3 linked regions of the Homo sapiens genome follow. The protein of the gene in region 1 purifies or fractionates together with the protein of each later gene. This does not show direct contact. Each region holds a gene or a part of one and is shown in the gene's direction. Other genes may lie near its edges. The genes, in order: CARS1, MCFD2 and THUMPD3.

What was found.
Region 2: the proteins of CARS1 (region 1) and MCFD2 fractionate together in Homo sapiens (co-fractionation; one large-scale study listed by BioGRID). This does not show direct contact.
Region 3: the proteins of CARS1 (region 1) and THUMPD3 fractionate together in Homo sapiens (co-fractionation; one large-scale study listed by BioGRID). This does not show direct contact.

The regions. Positions count from the first base shown.
Region 1 is NC_000011.10:3,026,398-3,030,048, reverse strand, and holds part of CARS1 (cysteine--tRNA ligase, cytoplasmic), read left to right. Parts: exon of another isoform or gene 1-605; coding exon 606-746; intron 747-964; coding exon 965-1,053; intron 1,054-3,251; coding exon 3,252-3,373; intron 3,374-3,651. UniProt on the Homo sapiens protein: Catalyzes the ATP-dependent ligation of cysteine to tRNA(Cys).
Region 2 is NC_000002.12:46,905,807-46,909,457, reverse strand, and holds part of MCFD2 (multiple coagulation factor deficiency protein 2 isoform A precursor), read left to right. Parts: intron 1-280; 5' UTR 281-286; coding exon 287-435; intron 436-779; exon of another isoform or gene 780-1,488; coding exon 1,489-1,648; exon of another isoform or gene 1,649-2,574; intron 2,575-3,651. UniProt on the Homo sapiens protein: The MCFD2-LMAN1 complex forms a specific cargo receptor for the ER-to-Golgi transport of selected proteins. Plays a role in the secretion of coagulation factors.
Region 3 is NC_000003.12:9,373,040-9,376,690, forward strand, and holds part of THUMPD3 (tRNA (guanine(6)-N(2))-methyltransferase THUMP3), read left to right. Parts: intron 1-1,476; coding exon 1,477-1,607; intron 1,608-3,651. UniProt on the Homo sapiens protein: Catalytic subunit of the THUMPD3-TRM112 methyltransferase complex, that specifically mediates the S-adenosyl-L-methionine-dependent N(2)-methylation of guanosine nucleotide at position 6 (m2G6) in tRNAs.

The DNA.
Region 1 (3,651 bases):
GTGTCTCATGCCTAGAGTGTGTGTGGTCAGGACCTGGTTCACATAGGTGCCATGTTTTGCTGGGATTGGTGGTTTTTACTCCCATTCCATGGTGTGTCAAGTGGGGATGGCATCTTCAGTCAATGGCGTCAGGGAGATGGGGCTTTTGAGACCTCTGGGACCAGTGCCCTGCCTATCTCTCCTAACCTCTGGCTGTGTCCGTCATGAATCTTTTCCTGAATGCACCAAGGGGTTGTGCTGTAGGTGACACACTGTGTGCTCCTGCCCAGCCTCTGCCCATAACCCTGCCCTGCACGGCCCAGGTAGGCTGCACATGCTCACCAGGCCCACCTCGGCCCTCCCACCTCTTTTTGCCTCTGCACCCACAGTCCCCTTGGCTTTGCTCCTCTGAGTTCATGTGAGACCTGCCCATTTGTAGAGTCTTGTATTTGTCCCTGCCGAGCCAGTTGTGTAAGCATCACAGTCTCCCTAGGAGACGGTGGCTCTTCACAGGTCAAGGTCAGCACCTTTGAATTCAGGGCACTGATGGGCTCACACCAGCTGCACGAGATGTTCTCATGTGAAGTGTGTGGCCCGCTGCTGGATTTTTGTTTCTTTCTCTTCAGGTGTTGCTGGAAGAAGCCAAGGATTTGCTCTCTGACTGGCTGGATTCTACACTTGGCTGTGATGTCACTGACAATTCCATCTTCTCCAAGCTGCCCAAGTTCTGGGAGGGGGACTTCCACAGAGACATGGAAGCTCTGAATGTAAGTGTCACGATTGTCTTGTGCTGGCTCTCTTGCGCTAAGGGCCCTGATTTCTAAATTCCTGTTTTGGCAAGGCCAGCTCAATTAAGCGGCCAAGTCAACATTGAACTTGAGTTGAGGGGCATAATGGGCTTTTCGTTTTATGAATTGGGAACGTTTTTATGGAGCGCGTGGTTTTCAGAAGGGAAAATCCCAGGACATTCTCATGTCTTGCACAGGTTCTCCCTCCAGATGTCTTAACCCGGGTTAGTGAGTATGTGCCAGAAATTGTGAACTTTGTCCAGAAGATTGTGGACAACGGTTACGGGTAAGCACAAGGGCCTTCCCTAGGGAGGGAAGGGCTGCAGAACATCGCACAGGGAGGAGCTCCCCAGCTCTGAGCCTGAGTTTGGGAAGCAGAGGAGCAGGTGTTCTGGGGCTGCGTAGCTAGAAGTCCCAGCAGACTTCCTCCTACAACTCTGGGCCCACCCAGGGGCTGAGGAGCATGGGTCTGCACTGTCCTGGGGGCCATGGTGAGAACCTAACCCAGAATCTGCTGGGAAGCTCGGCAGCCAAGACCATCAGTCATGGGGCCCCAGAGCTGCATAATGGTGAGTGCGAATACTGCTGGGCCTTCACAGACATCAGTGCCATTGCGTAGACATTTTGAGAGTGCTAGTCCTGGTGTCATATCCCGAAGGAGGATGCATTTCATCAGCATCTATCGCTTGGCTATGATTTTAGTGACTTTTTGTTGGCAAATCCATCATACACTTCCCTGGCCCGTATTGTCTCAATCTCCAAAGTAAGCATTTTCAGAAATGGCCAACAAATGGAAATGCAGACAGGAACCCGGTTATCTGTCTGTAGTGTGTAGGGACCAGCCCCACAGGGTCGGTGGGTTTTTCTCCCCATGTGTGGAGATGAGAGATTGTAGAAATAAAGACACAAGACAAAGAGATAAAAGAGAAGACAGCTGGGCCCGGGGGACCACTACCACCAAGACGCGGAGACCGGTAGTGGCCCCGAATGCCAGGCTGCACTGATATTTATTGGATACAAGACAAAGGGGTAGGTTAAGGAGAGTGAGCCATCTTCAATGATAGGTAAGGCCACGTGGGTCACGTGTCCACTGGACAGGGGGCCCTTCCCTGCCTGGCAGCCAAGGCAGAGAGAGAGAGGAGACAGAGAGAGGCAGCTTACGCCATTATTTCTGCATATCAGAGACTTTTAGTACTTTCACTAATTTGCTACTGCTATCTAGAAGGTAGAGCCAGGTGTACAGGATGGAACATGAAGGAGGACTAGGAGCGTGACCGCTGAAGCACAGCATCACAGGGAGACGGTTAGGCCTCCGGATAACTGCGGGCGAGCCTGACTCATGTCAGGCCCTCCACAAGAGGTGGAGGAGCAGAGTCTTCTCCAGACTCCCGCGGGGCAAGGGAGACTCCCTTTCCCGGTCTGCTAAGTAGCGGGTGTTTTTCCTTGACACTTACGCTACCGCTAGACCACAGTCCGCTTGGCAACGGGCATCCTCCCAGACGCTGGCGTTACCACTAGACCAAGGAACCCTTCTGGTGGCCGTGTCCGGGCATAACAGGAGGTTCACACTCTTGTCTTCTGGTCACTCCTCACTATGTCCCCTCAGCTGCTATCTCTGTATGGCCTGGTTTTTCCTAGATTATGATTATAGAGCGAGGATTATTATAATATTGGAATAAAGAGTAATTGCTACAAACTAATGATTAATGATATTCATATATAATCATATCTAAGATCTATATCTGGTATAACTATTCTTATTTTATATTTTATTATACTGGAACAGCTCGTGCCCTCGGTCTCTTGCCTCGGCACCTGGGTGGCTTGCCGCCCACAGTAGTGCTCAGCACTGTACCGTGCGCCTGCTCCCAGAGACCCACTGTGTCCAGCCTCAGATTGCTTCCCTCCCACAGGAACCACACAGGCTGGATGAAAGAGAAACAAGAGGTTGTGACAGTGCCAGGAACGGGGCAGACTCTTAAGCAGTAGCGCTGCTTCTCTCCCCACTTCACACAAACTACTGTGGGGCAGCATAAGAGCCTGTGCCAAGCCGAGAGGCATGGGCAAGCCGAAGCTCAGAGAGGACAGGTCATTCCAGACTGGAGTAATCTAGAGTGCTTCTTGGAGGCCAAGAGCCTCAGCTAAGCTAATGGGTAGAGTGTGGACATTCAGGGAAAGGTGAGGCCACACAAGAATGAGGACGGCAGCAGCCCTGAGCAAGGCAGGGTGGGAGCTGCATGGGTCACAGGACGCCAGGCAGAGGGACGAGCTGCCCAGGGCAGGCAGGCTGCCTCCGCAGCGGGATGGGCCCTGGTGTCCCACTCAGTCCAAACAGCTGATACGGTTTTCAGTGGCCACCACAGAGAGTAGATAGGCCACAGATTTCGCACTTTTATAGCCCTGCTTTATTTTGTTACTGTCATCCTGCTGACACACTTTCGGGTCTGTTAGATGCACCCACCCAATTCCTTTTCTGTTTTCCAGCTATGTCTCCAATGGGTCTGTCTACTTTGATACAGCGAAGTTTGCTTCTAGCGAGAAGCACTCCTATGGGAAGCTGGTGCCTGAGGCCGTTGGAGATCAGAAAGCCCTTCAAGAAGGGGAAGGTGAGGAGGGCATGCCTGAGAGCATGTGGGCTCTCCCTCCTGGCCCAGCCTGGGTTGTGTTGACTTTGCAGGCCACGGGGGCTGCGCTGAGCCCACCCCTCAGACTCTTGGGAACAGTGCTTTTTCACCTGAAGGAATTTTAGGAGTTTTCTGCACTCAACATTGTGCAGCTCTAAGACCATGACATGTGTTTTTTTAATGGATATATAATAATTATGCAATTTATGGGGAACATGTGATGTCTTAATACATGCACACCGTGTGTGATGATCGGGGTA
Region 2 (3,651 bases), on another chromosome or scaffold:
CAAGAATAATCTTCCAGTCCCTTCAAGCTTTCACGTGTTGCTTGGCACTCTGCAGGCACTTCAGGAAACCTCGTGAGCCTTCCCCTGCCATTTGAGTGACTTGGAGTGCCCAGGGTCATCCCACAGTCTCAAAGCAGAGCTGGCATTGGGCCGTGTTTGACAAGCTCTCTTCCTAACCTTACTGCTTCATCAGGTTTCCCAGGATCATACCATGTCAAGCCCTGAACGAAACCTTTGCTCTGATGCTCTGCCTTCCTCTTCTGTGTTTCCCATCTCACAGATATTGATGACCATGAGATCCCTGCTCAGAACCCCCTTCCTGTGTGGCCTGCTCTGGGCCTTTTGTGCCCCAGGCGCCAGGGCTGAGGAGCCTGCAGCCAGCTTCTCCCAACCCGGCAGCATGGGCCTGGATAAGAACACAGTGCACGACCAAGAGTACGTATTCAGCCCGGGCTGTGGTCCAGTGGCCTCCCCATCATCTGCAGCTGAGCCAGCGGCAAGGGCATGCTCAGTCCTCCTTTCCTTCTTCCTGTTTCTATGGCTCCTTGACATTCTTCAAGGATGATTCTTATTCCTTATTGCCACCTATAAGTCAGGTATTCTTTTTTCATCATTGTATCACAGGTGGAAGATCTTTAGGCCCAAATGGGGCACATTACTTGTCTGAATCCGGTCTCTCCTTTTTTTCACCACAGACAGACACACACACATACAAATAGACACACAGGTACACATACACAGTCATAGTAGCAGAATCCAGAAAATAGCTAAGGTTTCTTGACTATAACAAGACCTTTTTTAAATCAACACATTCAAACATTGAATCATTTGTTGCAGCTTTTGTCTTGGGCCAGTTAGCCTCACGCATTATACTCGGTTATCCTTTGTTTTTAAGGCTGGGTGCAGTGGCTCACACCTGTAATCCCAGTGCTTTGGGAGGCTGAGGCAGGTGGATTACTTGAGCCCAGGAATTCGAGACCAGCCTAGGCAATATAGGGAAAACCTGTCTCTACTAAAAAATTGCAAAAAATTAGCTGGATGTGGCAGTACATGCCTATGGTCCCAGCTACTTGGGGGGCTGAAGTGGGAGAATCAACTGAGCTTGGGAAGTTGAGGCTACAATGAGCCAAGATCACGCTCCTGCACTCCAGCCTGGGTGGCAGAGTGAGACCCTGTCTCAAAAAAAAAAAAAAGTTTTAAAGGACATATTTTTAAATTGATGGCCTGAAAATGTTATAACAAAATTCTAATAATAAAGAGGAAAGAATACCCTAATCCTGCCAGCATAACAGATGGTCTATTTGACTTTTCCTGCTCCTCTCAAGGCCTTGTCTATCTCTGTGTAATCCTTGAGTGTGGTCTGCCACTGCTGGTGTTTGTTTTTCTGAGCTGGAGGAAGTTTAAGATCTTGAACTTTTCAGAGTCCTTAAGATTTCAGCATGATCCCAGTATCTGTCAATTGGCCTGAACCTGACTGTTGATTTTTAGGCATATCATGGAGCATCTAGAAGGTGTCATCAACAAACCAGAGGCGGAGATGTCGCCACAAGAATTGCAGCTCCATTACTTCAAAATGCATGATTATGATGGCAATAATTTGCTTGATGGCTTAGAACTCTCCACAGCCATCACTCATGTCCATAAGGAGGTAGGTCTGGCAGTGGCTTGGGGGACTGTATCACAGAAAGGCTTCCCTTTGTTAATTTGGTCCCCAGTCTTGTTGACTTGTGTTGTCCTTATGTGCCAAGAGTGCTGCTTCTCCACTGGGCATGATGGCTCGCATCTGTAATCCCAGCACTTTGGGAGGCCAAAGTGGAAGGATCACTTGAGCCAGGAGTTCAAGACCAGCCTTGGCAATATAGTGAGACCCTGTCTCTACAAAACAAACAAAACAAAAATTAAAAAATTAGCCAGGCCTGGTAGTGCATGCCCGTAGTTCTACGTACTCAGGAGGCTAAGGTGGGAGGATTGCTTGAGTCCAGGATGTCGAGGCTATAGTGAGCCATAATCATGCCACCGCACTTCAGCCTGGGCAACAGAGTGAGGCCTTGTCTCAAAAAGAGAAAAAAAGAAAAGAAAAAAAAAGGTGCTGCTGCTTCTTTCTCTTCTGTGTTCTGCCTCTTTCTGTCCAACGATCCTTCCCGCAAAGGATAACTTGCTGAGGCAGAAGTCCCAGGGCTGGGCATTTGTATCTTTAAGTGCTACAGGCATTTCTGTTACACACCAGAGTATGAGAATCAGTGCCTAAAAGACAGACCGTATTCAAACTGCAGAGCAAGGGAGAAGTTGTTTAATGGTGAATTGACACCAAGGGATTCAGGGACGTGGCAGTAATTGAGGGCTTGTGTGATACTGTATGGTGCTCCAAAGTTTCTGAAGCCCTTTCAAGTAGGTTAGAGATCTCGTTGGATCTTTGCAACATCTTGAGTAGGCAGTGGCAGGCATTGTTAATACTTCCATTTTCAGTGGTGCATGCCTGTAGTCCCAGCTACTCATGATGCTGAAGTAGGAGGATCACTTGAACCTGAGAGGTTGAGGCTGTGGCAAGCTGCGATGTTGCCACTGAATTCCAGCCTGGGCAATAGAGCGAGATCCTGTCTCAGAAAACAAAAAACAAACAAAACCCTCCCATTTTCTAGGTGAAGACACTGAAATCAAGATCTTGTGCCAGGCTAAGCACAGTGGCTCATGCCTATTATCCCAGCACTTTGGGAGGTTGAGGCAGGAGGATCGCTTGAGCCCAGGAGTTCAAGACCAACCTGGGCAGCATGGTGATATCCCGTCTCTACAAAAATTAGCTGGACATAGTGATGCTTGCCTGTAATCCCAGCTGCTGGGGTGACGGGGTGGGAGGGTAGTGGGGAGGAACACCTGAGCCTGGGAGGTCGAGGCTGCAGTGAGCTGTGATCGTGCTACTGGACTCCAGCCTGGGTGACAGAGTCAGACCCTGTCTCAAAAAAAAAAAAAAAAAAAAAAAAAAAATCCTCGTGCCTCCACATTTAATGTCATTCCCCTTCTGCCACACTGCCCTCTATAGAGAGGAAGCAAGGCAAAGTTAGCCAGGTGAGTGGGATTACATTCGCTGCTAGGAGTGCAGGTGAGGTTTGAAGGCAGCAGGGAGCATGAATGATTTTGCACAGGAGAATGGCATTGTTTAGGGAAGATCCTTGGTTGTGGGAGACAGACTGAAGGACATGAGGAGAGACTAGTGTTAGGCGGAGGAATTAGGGGTCAGCAGTCCTGGCAGATGAGGATAGTGGTGGTGACAGGAGAGGGAATGGTGAATGTGGGAGATGTGGCAAAGGAAGAACCAGCCAAGGATGTGAACAGCCTCAGCCCACTAACCCTGCTCTTGGAGCATGGGAAATACTTTCTCCTCAAAGATCATAACAGGTTCTGCTCATCGGCAGTGCCTTCTTCCTCTTGTTTTGATGCCAACTTGTTGTCCAATTCGTCACTGTTTCTATTTTATCAGGCAAATTTGTGCACAGAGCTGACCCTCAGGAGGACTGGCACTTTTCCAATTAAAGAAGAATGAGCCATAATGAAACAAATAAGCAAAAGCCTATTTTGAAGGGCCTTCTTTTAACTGGCAAATGTAATTTCTAAACTGGATTATGATAAATTGACTCAATAATACATATTCTCTCT
Region 3 (3,651 bases), on another chromosome or scaffold:
AATTTGAGACCAGCCTGGGCAAAATAGTGAGACCCTGTCTCCACTAAAAATAAAATAAATATTTTAAAAAATAAAATGAATAGGTTAACCAGAACAGTGATGTCTAAAAGTTAGCAAGGTGATTCAGAGGAGTTTCTGGAGCCGTGCTGCATTGGTTTAAATCCCAGAGGAGGCTGGGTGTGGTGACACACACCTGTAATCCCAGCACTTTGGGAGGTCAAGATTGGAGGATTGTTTCAGGCCAGGAGTTCTAGACCAGCCTAGGCGACATAGGGAGACCCTGTCTCTACAAAAAATAAAAAAAAAATTAGCTGAGTATGATGACAGACACCTATAGTCCCAGGTACTTGGGAGGCTGAAGTAAGAGATTGCTTGAGCCCAGGAAGTCCAGGCCACAGTGATCTGTGATCATGCCACTGCACTCAATCCTGGGCGACAGAGTGAGACCCTGTCTCAAAAAGGGAATTCCTGAGGAGCTGTCTTTGTGCCTCAGTATCCTCATTTATAAAGGGAATAATACCTAGCTTAGGGGATGTGAATATGAGATGAGGCCATGTATGTAAAATGTGTAGAATAGTGCTTTGCATTAGGAAGTGCTGTATGAGTATCAGCTGTGCTTCTGCTGTGGTTAAGCTCAGGAAGTCTTTCAGTGAAAGATTGGGGAACATTTTGGTTTAGTTTAGTTCACTTTTGAGACAGGGTCTCGCTGTATCACCCAGACTGGAGTGCAGTGGTGCAATCATGGCTCACTAAAGCCTTGACCTCCCAGGCTCAGGCTGTCCTCCCACCTCAGCCTCCCGAGTAGCTGGGACTGTGGGCCTGTGCCACTGCACTCAGTGTAATAAGACTTTTTATTTGAGACTTTACCAATTTTTAAAACTTTTTTGTTGAGATACACTTTGCACCCCTTAAGTACACAAATCTTAAGTTTTCAGTAAGTTTTTACTTATATACACGATGTGTAAACAGCATCCAGATAGAGATACAAACTATTTCCAGTACCTCGGGCTCCCCTTGCCCTTTCCCAGTCAGTACCCACTCAAGGCAATCACTAATCTGACTGCTACCACCAAAAATTCGTTTTGCCAATTTTTGAACTTCATATAAATGAAATCATATAGTATATAGTTTTTTTCGTTCATTTTAATATCTATTATTTTCTTTTAATTCACTATGTTTATTGGCTACAACCAGATTTCACCCCAATTTTTATAACACAAACATATTTTGAAGGCTTAGAGGTTTTTTAATATGTATTTTTTAAATGTCTTAACTTTTTAGACAGTTCTGGGCTGTGGTGCGCTATGCCAATCAGGTGTCTGCACTAAGTTTGGCATCAATATGGTGACCTCCCAGGAGTAGGGGACCAACAGGTTGCCTAAGGAGGGGTGAACCGGCCCAGGTCAGAAAAGTCTTATTACTAAGCGCAGTTTGAACAATCCTAAAACTATTTTGTCTTGTTCCACTTTGCTATAGGTTCTTTTGAACATCCATGATAATGAAGTCATTGTGGGCATTGCATTGACTGAAGAGAGTCTCCACCGAAGAAATATAACACATTTTGGACCTACAACTCTTAGATCAACTCTTGCCTATGGGATGCTCAGGTAAGAAAATGAGTTTGCCATCCAGCTTAAAGTGGCACCTTGGTTTGAATGTTCCCTTCAAAATACTGATTTGTGTGTATGTGTGTTTGAGGTACTGTGTTGGAATAGAGTGGATAAAGAATAGAATGGAAAGCTAATGATCTATTTCTTTCCCTTCTATCCAATATTGACTCCTTGTGATCTGAAAATACTGCTTAATAGGTGGCTCAGTTTTCTTTATTTCTTTTTTTGAGACAAAGTCTCACTCTGTCGCCCAGACTGGACTGCAGTGGCGAGATCTCAGCTCACTGTAACCTCTGCCTCCCGGGTTCAAGCGATTCTCCTGTCTCAGCCGAATAGCTGGGATTACAGGTGCCTGCCACCACGCCCAGATAATTTTTGTATTTTTTTAATAGAGACGACATTTCACTATGTTGGCGAGGCTGGTCTCAAATACCTGACCTCAGGTGATCCACCCGCCTCGGCCTCCCAAAGTGCTGGGATTACAGGTGTAAGCCACCGCGCCCGGTTTTCTTGATTTTAAAATGAGAGTAATAGTTTTCACCTGCCTCTTGAATGAGGTTACCACATTTCTGTTTAGCAAGGATATGTGTGTTGGGAGATAAGAGTAAATTTTGCTGTTTCATTTCTGTGCAGTGAAAAAGATGAAAGCAGAGATTTTTATGTGTATAACGTGTAAATGAACAGAAAGAGCTTTTACTTATATTTTTAAGCTTTATACTCACAGCAACTCAGGAATCATCCTAGAATTTTTTGCTTTTCAGAGTACACGACCTATCTTTCCTTCTCCTTTGCCCTTCTCTCTTTTATTGGGTGCTTCTTTCCACCACTTGAAAATGTTTATTTTCTCTAAAGCTTCTGTTTTCCAGATGGCAAAATGGATTTGATGTGAGACTTAAAGGATTATTAGTGAGGATTAAATGCTGAAGCATATGCAAAATACCTATTATATACAGTGCCTGGTATGTCCTGGTAGTTAAGTCCAGTCATGCATCACTTAATGACAGGGATACATTCTGAAAAATGTGTCATCACGCAATTTCATCATTGTGCGAACCTCATGGAGTGTACCTACACAAATCTAGATGGTGTAGCCTACTACACACCTGGGCTATGTGGTATCTCCTATTGCTCCTAGGCTACAAACCTGTACAGCATGTTATTGTACTGAATATTGTAGTCAGTTGTAACGCAGTGGTATTTGTGTATCTAAACATAGAAAGGATAGGGCAAAATATGGTATTATAATTACTGCATTCATATATTTGGTCCACCATTGATTGGAAGATTGTCATGCAGTACACGACTGTATTCCTTCTCTTCCAATCTTTTATCTTCCTAACATATTAATTCAATGACGATAATAGAAAATTGGGCCCATTTGATAAAGGAAAATCTTCTAGTCTTCATTAATTTAACAAATATGCATTATCTACTGCCAGGCATATGGTAGAAACCAGGGATACAGAGAGGGTGTTATTTTGGGTGCAAATATTTAAAACCTAAGTAATCAAGTTTAGGATAAAAAAGTGATAATTGTGCCAGAGAGGGGTTTATTGGAAAGATAAAGAGAAATCTTGGGGATTCTACAGAAAAACTGAATGTTGGTTCTCAAGAAGGGTAGGAACCACATCTTGGAAAACCACCAGAAATGTAGGCAGCCATTTTTATCTCCCCTTAGAGCCTGTGGACTCTTGTCTCTTCTCATCTACATGCTTTCTCATCTAAATTTATGTATTTCCAATTCCAAACGACCAACCCACACTGCCTAGGGCTTTTAGCTCTTTGTTCCAAATTCCTGGAAGAGAGGATCTGATGGACATTGTTTTGGTCAGATATTCACCCCTGACCATCAGGAATGGCTTGGAGTACAGGGTGCTTACCCCCTCAAGAGGGTTGCCAAGGATTCTATTGCCATGTGTTGAGGAGTAGGAGCAAGGAGATAGAGCAGGACCAATGTTACAATAAGAACCCACTATTAACCCCCAAGAATCTGTCTTGTGAGGGAGATAAATAGTTATCATACATGCGATAAGTCCCACAC